2 separate regions of the Homo sapiens genome follow, and region 2 is linked to region 1. The links come from fine-mapping of genetic effects on gene expression. A gene starts in region 1. The other region holds a variant in brackets. All regions are shown on one strand. Distances are from middle to middle.

What was found.
Region 2: its variant is fine-mapped to the expression of LINC02265 in whole blood (TOPMed, PIP above 0.99).

The regions. Positions count from the first base shown.
Region 1 is chr4:40,303,126-40,311,461 of GRCh38, reverse strand. It overlaps LINC02265 (long intergenic non-protein coding RNA 2265), which reads right to left and starts at 4,277. Exons shown (of 4, transcript NR_121641.1): 1 at 3,976-4,277; 2 at 3,134-3,185. RefSeq lists enhancers at 826-1,464, 335-1,534, 1,465-2,103, 3,108-3,237, 3,808-3,857 and 3 more and a silencer at 1,876-2,170.
Region 2 is chr4:40,260,784-40,269,119 of GRCh38, reverse strand. No RefSeq gene overlaps it. Among named protein-coding and RNA genes, the nearest start is that of LINC02265, 42 kb to the left of the region's middle. The variant T/G (reference allele first, on the strand shown) is at 3,754.

The DNA of each region.
Region 1 (8,336 bases):
GGTCTCTATCTCCTGACCTTGTAATCCACCCCCGCCCGGCCTCCCAAAGTGCTGGGATTACAGGCATGAGCCACCTCGCCCAGCCAGTTATGTGTATTCTTAATTATTCACAACATTAAATGTTCACGATTGAAAGGAAGAAAAAATACATTCATTGTCTATTTAACTGCCTGATGCCATGACAAGTATATATAGTCATCATTGTAGAGCAGGAAGTAACCTCATCTGAGAGAAACTGAGCTCTGGAATGTTAGGTAACTCTCTCAAGGCCATGATAGTGGCGAGAGGCAGAGCCAGACTACAATCTCCGCGTCCCGGCCGAGGCTTAGAGTATTAGCCGTTGTTCCAGCAGCATTTCCTCGATGACAGGAGGGAAATGCTAGAGCTTCTTTTTAGTTCTGGGATCTGATCCTTCTTGGGTCTGAACATCTTTCACAACGCCAGCCATCGGCTTATAGAGGAGATTGCTGATTGTCTCCAAAATCCATTCTCTAATTCTTCAGTAATAAAATGTCAAATGTTACCAAGGCCCATGGTTGCTCTGCCTCATTCCCCAGTATACCTGACAGTGAACTCATGTCTGAGGACTGGTCAGCAGGATGTAAGGGAGAGTGGTGAGCACTTCTCTTTCTTTTCTTTTTTCTTTTTTTTTCTTTTTGAGACAGAGTCTCGCTTTGTTGCTGGGGACTGGGGTGCAGTGGTGCCATCTCAGCTCACTGCAACCTCCGTCTTCCAGGTTCAAGTGATTCTCCTGCCTCAGCCTCCTGAGTAGCTGGGACTGCAGGTATGTGTTACCATGCCTGGCTAATTTTTGTATTTTTAGTACAGATGGGGTTTCACTGTGTTGTCCAGGCTGGTCTCGAACTCCTGACCTCTGGTGATCCTCTCACTTTGGCCTCCGAAAGTGCTGAGATTACAGGCATGTGCCACCGCACCTGGCCAGTGAGCACTTTAAAGAACTAGAATGTACCCTTCTCTGTTCCTTTCCTCCTGACCAGTGACTGAAACGCTGAACCAAGCTTGGAGCTGGAGCAGCCATTTTGGGCCACGAGGTAGAAGCCATGTGTTGAAGAGAATGGAACAAGATGGAAGAAACCTGGTGATCAGGGAGCCGCCATAACAGTCTTGGGTTGTCTCTGTTTACATGAGAGGTAAATAAATTATTATTATTATTATTATTATTTTGAGATGCAGTATCGCTCTGTCACCCAGGCTGGAGTGCAGTGGCACGATCTCAGCTCACTACAACCTCCACCTAAGCAATTCGCTTGCCTCAGCCTCCCGAGTAGCTGGGACTATGGGTACCTGCCACCAGGCCTGGCTAATTTTTGTATTTTTGGTAGAGATGGGCTTTCACCATGTTGACTAGGCTGGTCTCGAACTCCTGGCCTCAAGTGATCCACCCACCTCGGCCTCCCAATGTGCTGGGATTGCAGGCATGAGCCATCACACCCAGCCTTTATTATATCCAGTGATTTAACAAAAACCACTTATATTTGGGGTTCTCAGTTATAAGTATTATGTTCGAACACAGAAAGTGAAACTATTTGAAAGTTTCTTGTAGAATTGGCTGGGAAGAAAGGCAATTCATTCCCTTTGAAGGATTTCATTCCCGGGATGTGGCTGCCTGCTTAAAGAGCAGGTTCCATTCTGTAGAGGAAGCTTGGGAGACAAGGAAAGACCCTCATTTCAAAAATATAGCCACTTCACTTCCTGCTGACTTGAGTTTTTGTTTTGTTAAACTGGTTTCTCTTTTAAAACAAATGTCCCCTCAGTAAACTAAGCTCATTTGTTGTTCACACCTGAGAACCAGAGCATCCTCTGCTGATTAGTAAGGAGTTTGGGGGAAGGGGAGTTGCGACTAGGCTGCAGGAGGAAGTGACACTTGGGGGAGGATAGGCCAAGGTGGTGGGATTGATGGGACTCGGAAAGTCCCTGAAAGCAGGGAAACAAAGAAGTGGGAGAAGGGCCAGACAGGGTCGCGCTCACGCTCTAAATCGCACTGGCTCGGCTTTGACTTGCTCTCAAGACACTGGGAACAGCGCGTGAACACCAGAGGGCAGCAGCGCAAGATGAAATTAACAGGGACTCTTCACAGGGCCCCTGGCTTCAGGTCTCAGGGAGAGCCAGCCTTCCCATCCAACCTGGATCTGCCTGGTTTCCTTTGTCCAAAGTCAACCAGGGTGGAAGACTTCAACCAAAGTGGGCAGGGCCCACTTTCATACACATTCCTTCAGGGATTCCTGGTGATGGTCGTTCCCCCTCTCTAGTCCACTGATGCCATCTCTATCACACATTTAACATTGTATTAAAATAGTCTTTAATGTGGGTTATATATGCTTCTTACCTAGCCACACCCTAAGCAATCAGACCTGTGAAATGATGATTTTGGTGTGCTGGTGTGTGTATGTTATAATTATTACATTAGAATATCTATATCACCAGAAAATCATCTATCACCTATAGGATGTATATCACACTTGGAAAAATGTTGCATTACTTCATTAAATTCCCCCCAATGACCCAATGAAGAAAGTGATATTATTCTCCCCATTTTCTAGATGAGGAAACTGAGGCTCAGAGAGGTTAAATATCTTCCTCAAGAATTTTCGCCAGAGCTGGGATTTGAACCAAGGTCTGCTTGACTTAGAAGGCAGTGGTCCTTGCTTTCTCCCGAGGAGAAGGGAGCAGAGATACCTAAAGATGCCTGACTCCCAATCCCATGGGAACATGCCCCCTGCGGGCTCACTTCCTCTCCTCTTTGTCTTCAATTTCTAAGAATGTCTTCTTTTCACTAAAACAAAACACTCCAGAATGCATTCTGCATGAATAAAGACTGCCAACTCCATGGCAGAAATAACATACCTTTTGGGAATGTTTATCACTTCTAAAATGATGATAAAGAAATTCAACAGTTTGTATTTCTGGACGAACTAGGGGAGAAGAGGAAATAAAGTATCTACAGAGTATCACAACACACCTACAGGAAGCTGAGCAAAGTAGACTAATCACACTGGGCCCGGAGGACGGCTGGTAACAGAAACCTCAACGTTTATCTGAAGTGACTGCTCATCCCCGGGCACCACGGTGACAGGTGTGATAGAAAGATAAAACCCTAGACTCTGCTGCTCACCTGCCGTTGGGCCTTGGTCAAGCCACTTCTCTCTGAGCTTCAACTGCCCCATCTGTAAGAGGATAACAATTCCGGCCTCAGGGGGTCATCATAGCAACAAATGAGGAACCTGTAAATTAGTGCGAAAACACCCCACTTACTACTACTGTTTTTAAATGATTGTGAGAGTAAAAAGGGCCTTCGTGTTCAGAACCCAATCAGCTTAGAGTGAATTGTAGCACTTGGCAAATACTGCCTTTTCTGCTTGGAAACTTCACTTAAAAAGAAAAAAAAAATGAGGTCAAAGAGCGATTCCTAAAGCAAAAGAAAATTGCTAAACTTTAGACTATTCCTGACCCCAAAGTCCTCCTTCAGACCATGTTTCCCCTTTTTCACTCATATCTAGCCCAACATGCATAAATCCTTGCTTCTACCAGAGGGCCACACAGAGGAATGGACAGACAGGAAGAGTCTTTGCCCAATTAGTTTCACTTCCTCCCTGGCACCCCATGGTCACAGCCCTGGAGAATTGTTTTCTGCGGCGCTGAGGGCTACATTTTCGTTTTAACCAGCGCAAGGTAGGCAAGAGACTTAAGTCAGAGAGCTTGATGATGTAATGAATTTGCCAGCTGCCAACGACACTAGGACCTCATCACATTTCTTTGTTTTCCTTTCTAACCCCAAATCTAGCAGGCATCCCTGTTCTCATTAACAAAGCCTCCTATTAGCACCATTGCTCCCTAACTACCATCGGACCTCACAGGGAGAAGTTCTGTATCGAGAACAGTAGAGCAAAAAGACAGGAGGAAAGCAAGTCCCCAACATCATGCAGCCCACATACTAGCTCTGGATGGCTTACGTACGATGAAATCTCCAAGATGCCTTCCAAAAACCAGATGACCCTGTCCTTTCTGGAACTACCGCCGTCCCTTGTAACTCTGTAAGCTTCATTTCCAACCTCATCCTGCTCTAACTCGAGCACAAACATAAGTCTGTAGAACCACAGTGGCCTTGGGGGCATCATTCTCTTTGCCTTGTCAACATTTCTATTTTATATCCCTCCCTGCTCCTGTCTAGAGGTTGGTACTCAGTCTCCTGAGACTCATCTTATAGATAGAGCTTGATGGACCACGGGGAGAGGGCATCACTCCTGCTACAGTCTGAATGCACACACCTGGGGCCCAGCTGCCCAACCTTCCACCGCTGAAGTTCAAACAGTTGCATCTTAGACAACTCCTCCACTTCTAATCAGCCCAGCATAGAGGGAGTTTGGAGGTGTCAGACACCCATCAATGGCTGAGAGAGAAAGAAATATAGTGAAAGACCTGTTAGCAGTTCTGTTGTGCCCAACAGAACTCTCATTTGTCTTATGTCTAAAAAGCTGGCCATTGACTTTCAACAGGATTTCACTGATGCTATTAGAAAATATTTTACCACTAAATGAAAATAAAGATAAACTGCCTTTCTGAAGATGCAAAAGGTAAGAGATAATACATAAAAATGCAAGTTGATCAAATTTCACTTGATGTTTGATGACCCTCAGTGTCCCAGAACATTGCTTTGGGAATTATTTTCTCCTTTGATCTTGCAGAACAGTGTGAATGGACATAGAGGCCATTTGTATAAAAGAGGAACCTAAGGACGTAGGGGAAAACAAAAGAATCTGTCAGGGATGGGAAAAGCACACCCATTTAAATATGCAGAAACCTTAATGCCAGTGTCTGGCTAGCTATTAAGCAGTAATTCCTTCTCTATCCCTTATCATATCTACCAGTTACTCTGCAAGATTCTTCAGTGTAAAGAGCACTGTAAAATGTATTTTTCAGATTTATCTCGTCTTTTTGCCAGATCAGCCCACCCCATGCATATCTGCCAGCTGCCTCTTACACAATCCCTCAGAGCCCACGGAGCTGCACTGTGGGCCCTCAGATGATCTGATGCAGGTATAGAACCCCTCCCCCACATTCTTTTCTTGCTAGCTTGCCTCCATTACAAACCATCTTCCTCACTCAGATATTTTCAATCCTGGTAGTTTTTGCTTGTTTGTTTGAGACAGGGTTTCACGCTGTCACCCAGGCTGGAGTGCAGTGGTGCAATCATAGCTCACTGCAGCCTTGACCTCCTGGGCTCAAGTGATTCTCCTTCCTCAGCCTCCCAAAGTGCTGGGTTTACAGGCGTGAGCCACTGCACCTGACTTCCCCAGCAGTTTTGACCGTGATCTCATTTGCCTCTTTCTCCTGATTAGGCCAGCATTAGAGCATCCAAGAGGCTGCATAATATGGAATAAACATAGGTCATTAGATTTAAATCAAAATTCTGGCTTTTTACTTCCTAGCGATGCAAGCTTTGTTGAGTTCCTTAACTTTTCTTAGCACTTCTGCTTTTTAAAAAAAGTTGCTATAATACTAAATCGTAGGATTTTTGAGATAACTAAATGAGAAAATGTGCATAAGACTTGCAGCACCTTAAGTGCTCAGTAAATAGCAACTCTTTTTTTCCCGCTTCTATTTCCCAAAATAGTCCTGGCTGGGAAGACTCATTGTCACAGGCTACACTAAATAGTTTGGTATTATTATTACTCAGATTTCATTCAATACTTTCATTCATCATTCTAAGGAACACAATAACATGTCATTTTTGGCATCTGCCTCTGGGGAAGTAATAGCGTCATTTTTTCATAGATCATTTTCATAACTGGCCCTTTGCCCTCACATAATACCACAGGGTGGGCTCAGACCGAAACTGTCAAGATCCTCAATGGTTTCGCACTTAGCACCAGCCTCCGTTGGTCCCTTGGAAACCGGAACAGTACCAACCAAGAAGTTTCTACTTCGCTTCTACTCAGATGGCACTGCCGAGAAAAGGTGGGAGGGCTGCCTGCTCAAGTGTGGCCTTTAAAGACAAAGTGGAGAAGAAAAAGAGGTGAGAATGTGGTGCAGTAGTCTGTGAACCTGAGATATGCAGCGGTGGGAAATAGCGGCCCCTAAGGAGCCATTTGTATAAACCAGTTCACAGCTACATGCAATGTGCCACCTGCAAACAGAGCCTCTGAGACATAGAAAGGGTTTTCCAATATTGCTTTTACCATAGAAAGGATTATGGCTCATCTTGGTTCTCGGTGAAATTTGGTTTGATGCTGCCTGCACAGTTCCAGAGTTTCTTGGTCTAAGCCAGGGGCCACAGGCCCCCTTACAAACAAGATGTTTTCTTTAAGATATAACTGAGGCTGCTGTAAAAATGAGAGATAAAAACAGAACTTTGTTTTTCTTAGGTAAGAGTGTGAGCATAAGCCTTCCAGAGCTGCCATGTGATTCCATGATGTTGGGGATGTAGTTTCTTCCTGTCTTTTTGCTCTAGTATGCTCCATACACAGCTTCCATCTTGTGATAGCACATGGCTGCCCCAGCTGCCACTATCCCATCCACACTCCAACAGGCAGGAAGAAGAACTAGAGCAAGAGAAGACATCCTGCTTTCCATTAAAGGCAGTCTGGAAATTCCAAGCATCAATTCCACAATCATCTCCTTGGCCAGAACTTAGTAACTGGCCCACACCTAGCTGCAAGGGAAGCTGGAATTGTAATCCTAGGGGGACCATCATGAGTCCATCTGGAACATTACTATGGAAGAACAGAATGCAATATTGGGGAACAGCTAGCACTCTGCACAAAGGACTAGACAGGAATATAAACCAGTGATTCTTGCCAGGTGTAAGGACATATGTGTATCTTTTGTGGGCAGTGGAGCACAGAGCAAACAGGGAGAGCCCCATTTTAAGCAGCAGCCCCTTTCACCTTAGATGATGTGGTCATGCAGAAATTCAGGCTCCATGTTCAACTCTGCTGTTTTCAAAAGAAGCCAGGAATCAACATTTTAAAAAATAATGAAATCTTGGCCAGGCACGGTGGCTCATGCTGTAATCCCAGCACTTTGGGAGGCCAAGGCAGGTGGATCACCTGAGGTCAGGAGTTCGAGACCAGTTTGGCCAACACGGAGAAATCCCATCTCCACTAAAAAAAAAAAAAAAAAAAATACAAAAAATTAGCCAGGTGCATTGGCTTACACCAGTAGTCCCAACTACTCGGGAGGCTGAGGCAGGAGGATTGCTTGAACCTGGGAGGCAGAGGTTGCAATGAGCTGAGATGGCACCACTGCACTCCAGCCTGGGCAACAGAGCGAGACTCCTTCTCAAAAAAAATAAAATAAAATAAAATATAAAATAAAAATATAAAATCTTTCCATTTTAGAATGTTGGTTCAATTTTTTTTTTAGATTCTGTGTGGGCCCAACAGATCTGTGGACTGGATATGGCCCAGTAGCTGCCATTTGGGGCTCTATATTGATTCGATTTGCATGAAAATGTCCATTGTGCTTAACTCTGCCTAAAATGCAAAATTTTGGGAATCCAAAATTAGAGTTAAAAGGCAAATAGGCTTAGTAAAGAGCTGTTACCAAGACAAAGCCTTCAAAGTACTTAATTTGTTTGGCTTGTTAGTCGGGCACTGAAACACAAGAAAATCACAAATTGGTTTTGAATGGGTCACAATGTCCAAGTAGTTACTTAACCAGGAAAATGAACTGGAAGAAACTCTCAAGTTCAATTTTTCAACATGTTTCATGTGTGAGATGGAAATGATATGCATGGCAGCCATGCTAATGCCGCTGGATCTCCTGCTGTGGGGAGCGTGATTGATGGTCACCCCGAAGCTGCCTTTCTGGATCCAACACCATGGCTACAGGGAGGCTGCACTTCCTGCCAGCTGCTCCAACCAATGACTGAGCACAGAAGAGGGACAATTCCAATAGTCCACTTTGGCTCCAGGATTCTTTACCAGCCTGGCCAAACCTTTCTTGTAAACTGACTGCAGTCTCAGGCTCCTCCAACCCAATCCTCCTTCCTTCTCTCCTTCCATTTATTTATTTATTTATTTATTTATTTATTTATTTATTTTGATACAAAGTCTTGCTCTGTTGCCCAGGATGGAGTGCAGTGGTGCAATCTCAGCTCACTGCAACCTCCACCTTCCGGGTTCAAGCGATCCTCCTGCCTCAGCCTCCTGAGGAGCTGGTATTACAGGCACCCGCCACCACACCTGGCTAATTTTTGTATTTTTAGTAGAGACAGGGTTTTGCCATGTTGGCCAGGCTGGTCTTGAACTCCTGACCTCAGGTGATCCATCCTCCTCAGCCTCCCAAAGTGCTGAGATTACAGACATGAGCCACCA
Region 2 (8,336 bases), 42 kb after region 1:
AAAAAAAAAAAACCTGGAAAGGGAAGAGGATTCTCTACAGAATGTAAATTTCAGCCAGGTGCAGTGGCTCACGCCTGTAATCCCAGCACTTTGGGAGGCTGAGGTGGGAGGATCGCTTGAGCCCATGAGTTCAAGACCAGACATACATTTCTCCCATAAGAGACAGCTTTGTGGGGCCATATCTAAATACATCAGATAAATATATTTGAGGATAAAATAATTTCCTTCAGGGCCTGCTATCTGACATGTGGCACGATACTAGAGTTAGGTTGGAATTTGGTATCTTATTGCTACAAAAGCCTGTTTTGTCAGTCTTAAGATCTCCATTTTAATTTTGTTGTTGTTGTTATATGGTTTTTGTTTGTTTGGTTGTTTGGTTTTTGTCTCTTTTTTTTTTTTTTTTTCTGAGTTTCACTCTGTTGCCCAGGCTGGAGTGCAGTGACATGATCTTAGCTTACTGCAACCTCCAACTCCTAGGTTCAAGTGATTCTCCTGCCTCAGCCTCCCGAGTAGCTGGGATTACAGGTGCACACCACCACGCCCGGCTAATTTTTTGTATTTTTAGTAGAGACAGGATTTCACCATGTTGGCCAGGCTGGTCTCAAACTCCTGACTTCAGGTGATCCACCCATCTCGGCCTCCCAAAGTGCTGGGATTACAGGTGTGAGCCACTGGGCCTGGTCTTTGTTTTGATTTTTTTAGAGAAAAGGTATCCTTCTGTTGCCCAGGTTCCTATTTTAATATTAATGCTGGTCAGTTGTGCCTGAATTCCAAAGAAAGGAGGGTATAATGTGGCATGTCCAACCCCCTTTCCCACGATGGCCTGAACTAATTTTTCAGGTTTACTTTAGAATTCCTTTGGCCAAGAAGGGGGGTCCATTCAGTCCGTTGAGTGACTTAAACTTTTATTTTTGGTTTACATGGGTAGTACATTAGCCAGCCTGGCTGGGGTGAAGGGCTGGCTGGGGAACAGAGCAAGAGAAAGGCATATAGGTGGGACTAGAGGCCTTTAACCCCAACAAGAGAGCTGCTTGGATTACAGTTCATGGTACACAATGGAGGGTAGCTTGGAGGGTGGTGGGCTGAAGAATGGGATGGCCTCTAGTTGGCAATTAGAATAATATGATTCTGGGGGCCATCCAAGGTAGTCAGGAAAATAAGCAACACTGTTCATGCTCATGGTTAAAAAAAAAAATTAGATAACCTGCCAAAAATCAGACAGTGGGGTAAAATTAATTTAATAAACCCTCCCTGAACTTTCTGTGCCTTTTTCTTAGAGGATTTCATGAATCCTTTTGTAGCAGCAGCTCTTAAAATTCCGGGGTCATGGACTCTTGAGACTCTGATGAAAGCTTTTGATAGTCTCTCCAAGAACACAATGAATTAAAGCAAAAAATTGTATGTGGCTAGGCAGCATTTCTCTACTCTCATGTTCCCTTACCTTTATATCTTCTTTTCTTCTTTCTGAAAGAGAGGTCATTTGATAAGGAGTAGGGGTGGGGGGAGCGGCGAGTAGCGGGGAGAAAAAAGATGCTTTCAGCAGAATCAGGCACCAGAGCTTTCCTAGAAGAGGTAGTGAATATTTGCAGCAGAAAGTTTAGGTGTAGAAATTTTATTCTGAAATATAGGAAGCCTCTTCCTGGTGTCAGAGGCATTTGAACCAGAGCAACATCATCATGAATAGGAGCTGGGTAAAATGAGGCTGAGACCTACTGGGCTGCATTCCCAGACGGTTAAGGCATTCTAAGTCACAGGATGAGATAGGAGGTCAGCACAAGATACAGGTCATAAAGACCTTGCTGATAAAACAGTTTGCAGTAAAGAAGCCAGCCAAAACCCACCAAAACCAAGATGGCCACAAGAGTGACCTCTGATCATCATCACTGCTACACTCCCGCCATGACAGTTTACAAATGCCATGGCAACGTCAGGAAGTTACTCTATATGGTCTAAAAAGGGGAGACATAATTAATCCACCCCTTGTTTAGCATATCATCAAGAAATAACCAGAAAAATGGACAACCAGCAGCCCTTGGGGGTTCTCTGTCTATGGAGTAGCCATTCTTTTATTCCTTTACTTTCCTAATAAACTTGCTTTCACTCTACTGTACGGGCTCACCCTCAATTCTTTCTTGTGCGAGATCCAAGACCCCTCTCTTGGGGTCTGGATCAGTACCCCTTTCCTGTAACATTGGGAAGTAAAAAAAAAGCAATACAGGGATGGAAATGTGAAAGGAAAATAAATCTCGAGACCCCAAAATCACAAAGCCAAGGGAAAAGACAGGCTGGGAACTATGTCACGCAAACCTGCCTCCCATTTTATTCCTAAATAAGATGGCTACAAAGATAAAAAGCTCCATACTTCCCTCACAATTTACCTACAAGGAAATTCCTTGTGGACAAAGGACAGACAGAACAGAACTCAAAGTCATCCCTTAGAGGCTCACATGGGACAAATCCGTATCCAATTGCTTCCTCTGCCCTATTATTTATGTAAAATTGCAGATTCACTGAGCCAGACTAAATTTTGTATTCAGTGGAAGGTTGATCAAGGACTCCGAAGAGTCCACTGCAGCCTTTTGTCTTTTGACTACTTATGACGTGGAAGTCTCCGCCTCACGTTGTCCCACCTTCCCAGACTAAACCAATGTACATCTTACATGTATTGATGTCTCGTGTCTCCCTAAAATGCATAAAAGCAAGATGTGTCTGACTACCTTGGGTACATGTTGTCAGGACCTTCCAAGGCTGTGTCACAAGCAGATTCTTAACTTTGAAAAAATAAACTTTCTAAATTGATTGAGACCTGTCTCAGATACCTTTTGGTTTATAGAAACAAGGAGAGAGTCCAAGTTTGGTGGAAGAGGGAAGGGAGCAATTAACTAGATTTTGTAGAGTTTGGTGGATGCCTCGATGGAGAAAGTAAAGAGCTGTACTCAATGAGTAAGAGTGATGGCCTCATAGTCAGGCTTTCTGGAAATGGACTGTACCTTTACACTCATCGAATACTGTAGCCATAACCGAGGGCAGTTTTACCACTTCTTATTTCAGTTCCTTGTGAGCCTTCATCTGCCACAGCATTTGGAATGAGTCTTCCTCCAGTCAGGGCTGCTGATCACAGTTGCACAGGCCGTTCACTGAACAAGGCAGAGGGGACAGTGGAGACTGAAATCTAGCTGTGCTGGGCTTGCCAAAACTCTGTGGGCTGGCATAGGGCGGTGTGCAGGCAGAGCAGGCACCATTTTCTGACTCTCACAAAGGATCCTGCAGGCTGGCAGCGCTGTACCTACCACCTGCCTAAGGCTCTGCTCTTTCTCTTCTGCCTCCGCCTCTTCCCTTCACCCTCGCCATGGCAGAGAATTAGACTTGTCAAGTTTCCACAATATGATGCAGGCTAGAAACACTGGACAGGCTGCCATCTCCCTCCTCCCTCTCCCTTCCCTCTGCTCCTCCCTCTCTCCCTCATCCCTCTCCCATAAGTTCTTCCACATGGATTCACTTTTTCAGAGAAAGTAGATTGAGGTTGAAGCAGAAAAATGACTCAGTATGTGACAAGTGTGTTTCTCCTACCAATAGCATGAAGAAAACAGACGCAGACGGTTTTCAGCAGCCTCTTTTCTCTCGGCCCAAGCCTCAAGCTAACAGAAATGTTGTGAAAAAGAACAGCCGATAAATGGTCCCTGAGTGACAGCCACAGAGTTAAAACCACAGGAGGGCTCTGCCTGCTCCCACAGCTGCAGGGTGATGAGGCTT[T/G]GCTGGGTTCCAGATCACAGGCCTGCAGTGGCCCAGGCTCCAGCGTTAGTCCTGTCTCCCCAAGGAGCCCAGGCCCAGGCTGGCTTCTTCCCTGCCCACTACTCAGGAGGAGCTTCGACCCTGTGGGAACTGGCAGTGTTGCCGCAAAGGCAAGCCCTCTGACTTTCTCGCTTCAGGCAGCCCCTGCTCGCCCTCAGGCACTAGGCACCTGCTTGACCCCTTTCCCAGGCCCATGGGGCATCTGCTCCTCCCATCTCAGGCCTGAGGGAGAAGCAACAGCCCAGAGCTTGACCCGGAGCAGATAATGCAACCGGCTTTGCAAAAATCTTAACTAAGGCAATTATGACAGTGAAAGAGGTCAGACCTAACTGACCCCATCTTCCTTCAAACCTCTCAACTGTCTTTATTCATTTGTGGGTATAGGCTGAACTAGCCTTGGGAAGGAATTTAGTTTATAGTTTACACTCTGAAACAAAATTGATAATAGCCTTTTCCCGAAAAACCCCTTTTTGCCTGGGGACCAGTTTGCCTTTGTAGGATTAACAAATTATCTACAAGATTAGAAATTACAGTTTAGCAGCCATGCAGCCTTTGGCTGCAAGAGTCTGAACCTCTCCAAATTGCTCCTGGGAATGACATCATTGTTGCGAAACCTAACATCAGTGCTTGAGATATTTTGCAGACTCTGCATTCCAATGCAGCAGATGACACCACCTAGACTGATAATCCGGCTCAATCAGTTCTGCAATCCCACCCAGGAGCAGAAGTCAGCAAGAACACCTCAATTCGACCCCCTATGATTTCATCTTCAACCCGACCAGTGAGCACTCTCCACTCTCCGAGCCCATACCACCAAATTATCCTTAAGAACTCTGATCCCCAAATGCTCAGGGAGATTGATTTGAGTAACAATAAGACTCCAGTCTCCCGCACAGCCGGCTCTACATGAATTACTCTCTCTCTCTTTTTTTTTTTTTATTTTTGAGACGGAGTCTCACTCTGTCACCCAGGCTGGAGTGCAGCGATTCAGTCTCGGATCACTGCAACCTCTGCCTCTTGGGTTCAAGCAATTATCTGCCTCAGCCTCCCAAGTAGCTGGGATTACAGGTGCCCGCCACCACACCCAGCTACCTTTTTTGTATTTTCAGTAGAGACGGGGTTTCACCACCTTGGCCAGGCTGGTCTTGAATTCCTGACCTCGTGATCCACCTTCCTCGGCCTCCCAAAGTGCTGGGATTATAGGCATGAGCCACCACACCCGGCCTGAATTACTCTTTCTCTATTGCAATTCCCCTGTCCTGAGAAATCAACTCTGTCTAGGCACCCAGCAAGGTGAACCCATTGGGTGGTTACGGTAATACCCTGGAACTCCAGGACTCTACTTGAGGAGATGTAAGGACAGCAAAACTCCATCCACTTCCATGCTCTTAGGGTCTCAGCTGGGCACAAAGGCTAAATTGATGTAAGATCGATTAACAGGAGAAAAGCATACAACTTTATTTCATATAAGTTTTACATGGCACGGGAGCCCTGCTAAGGAAATGAAGACGCCCAAAGAAGCAGCTAGAGTCAGTTACTTATTAATATATACTGGATTGGACCAAGAGTAGTAAGTTGTGAAGAAGCAACTAAATTATGTAGAGAGGCTTAAAAGATAAGAGTTATTTGAACAAGGTCTGTGCAGAATACTCCTGGTCTCTACTTCTCAACCTCAAAGATAAGGATGTTGTGTCTTTCACACTCGAATTTCATCTGCTTTTTTTTTTTTTTTTTTTGAGACGGAGTTTCGCTCTTGTTGCCCAGGCTAGAGTGCAATGGCGCGATCACAGCTCACTGCAACCTCCACTTCCTGGGTTCAAGCAATTCTTCTGCCTCAGCCTCCCAAGTAGCTGGGGTTACACGCGTGCACCACCACGACTGGCTAATTTTGTATTTTTAGTAGAGATGAGGTTTCACCATGTTGGTCAGGCTGGTCTGGAACTCCCGACCTGAGATGATCCACCCGCCTTGGCCTCCCAAAGTGCTGGGATTACAGGTGTGAGCCACCATGCCCGGCCCATCTCCTGCTTTTAAGAAACAGCACAGAGGTCGGAGTGACCTTGCACCCACTGTTTTCCATATACCTTTAACTTAAAAGTCAATATGCCAGAATGGCATGTTTTGGATGGCATATTCTTAATTCTTTCAGAGATCAGGGGTCCATAGTCATCACCATCATAATCATCATCATGTGCATGTAGGGTGCACTAATACATGCTGGGCAGATACCACGCCCTTTCCATTCCATATTCACTCTCACAGCCACCTCCTGAGGTATTATTGTCTCCATTTCACAGATGACAAAACTGAGACTCAGAAATACTATAAAGCTTTCTCAGGGTCACTGAGTCCCACCAACTCCATCAACCCATCAGAATTCTCTCCTTCCCTCTCTTTAGTTATGACCACGTGTTGTAACTGTATTGCAGCCTTTCTTCAAGTGAAATGGCCTCTAGGAGTCTATTTCCAAGATTCACACTTGATAGGGCATTTTATAGGAAAAGAGAATGGCCAGACAGTCATTGTTAGACTAGACACAGAATAAAAGAATGGCTGGTTAGGCCAGACATGGTGGCTGACGCCTGTAATCCCAGCACTTTGGGAGGCTGAGGGGGGCTGATTGCCTGAGGTCAGGAGTTTGAACCCAGCCTGGCCAACACGGTGAAACCCCTGTTTCTACTAAAAATACAAAAATTACCAGGCGTGGTGGCACACGCCTGTAGTCCCAGCTACTTGGGAGGCTGAGGCAGAAGAATCACTTGAACCCGGGAGGTGGAGGTTGCAGTGAGCCGAGATTGCCCCACTGCACTCCAGCCTGGGTGACAGAGCAAGACTCCATCTTAAAAAAAAAAAAAAAAAAAAAAATATATATATATATATATATATATATATATATATGGTTAAAGGTCAACTGGGCTGTTGTCTGAAAGTCTGCAGGGGGTCAGGGAGCAGGGTAGGTGTGACTTGTTTCCCAGAACAAGCCTTAATCCCATCAAAGTCCATCAGAAAACAGCTTGGGCATTTTATCAGGAGCACTGAGTTTCTCCCCAGAAGGAAGTTGTGAATTACATCACATCCAAAAAAGGGTCTGTCCCAGACCAGGCCTGGGGCAATTTTTCTTTTCAGTGCTATCATGGTGAACATGACATTCTATTGATGACTAGACTATTCCAATTCAATTATATAATCATAACACATGGTCATGGTGTCACAGCAATCACTTGAGAACAGAATAAGCCCAAATCATCTATATGTCTGGCTTATAACAGATATGTAATGAATGTTTTATTCTGTGAATGAGTGAACTTCCCTAAACGGAGAAGGAATGAGTGAATTAGATCATCACTGTTCAAAGTGCAACCTGCCATCCAGGGCAGGTCTGTAAACTGTTACTGGACCATGGCAAGGTGAGAAAGAAAATAAACTTTTTATCTGAGGAATATGAGCCCTTTTAAGTGATCAGGCCCAGAGAGGCATTAAAATGAGACAGCAGTCATGGCTCACTCCACCCCCTACCTGTAGGAAATCAGTCAGGGTGGTAGGAAAAATTATAGGGAAAGACACAAACCTTCTTAGAAGGCAGGGAGGTTTTGCAAAAGCTTCAGGAGAGGATTATGGCTGAAGGCAGCCAAATTCTCTTGTCCGGGGGCTGAGAACAAAAGGCAGATAACAGGGGAATGTAAAGGAACTTATCTAGATAAATCTGTTTACTTATGTCTCCAGAAACCAACCTTTGCTCATTCGTGTGCAGGACTGCTCTCTACTTGGGGGGGTCGACAATGTTAATCACCCCAAATTGTGTTTGCTCCAAGCCTTTGTCGTTAAATCTGTACTAAATAAATGCGAGTGTCTCTGGCTTATGGGAGCTGCTGCTGCTGCACTCTTGCTGGTGGTGCTAAGCGGCAGTCCCCTAGCCACGCTGTCAGGTAAAACACCTGTGTCAGCGTACTTCCTTCATCCATCTCTCAGCCAGAGTCTGGCAGCAACTACCACCTTGAGCTAAGTATTTATTTTGAAGCCTCCTGCTATATAGACTCTAGACTGAATGTCTCCACCAAGTACCCATAAATTTACCTAACATATGCCATATGCTAGACAACATTATTCACACACTATAGTTCAACAACATATAGTCAATTACTAATCAATGTTATCCCTGTAACCCTGCAAAAATTCCTGAAAAAACAACTTTTGCAATTGCCCTCTCTCCTGATTGATCCTTTTTTCCTTAAAAACCTCTCCTTTATTCTCAGGAGAACTTCTCAGTGTTTCCTCGGTTGCAGTCCTTAGCCTTGGCCCAAATGGACTCTATATTAATTTTGCCTCAATTTCCTCCTTTAGGTTGACAAAGGTAAGCACAGAAATCGAGAGAATGACATATGGAAAAAGTTTTATAGCAACTGGACAATGTATGTTGAGTCTAAATAATGCAGGAGTTCGGCCAGCACGGTGGCTCATGCCTGTAATCTCAGCACTTTGGGAGGCTCAGGCAGGGGGATCACCTGAGGTCAAGAGTTCCAGACCAGTCTGGCCAACACGGTGAA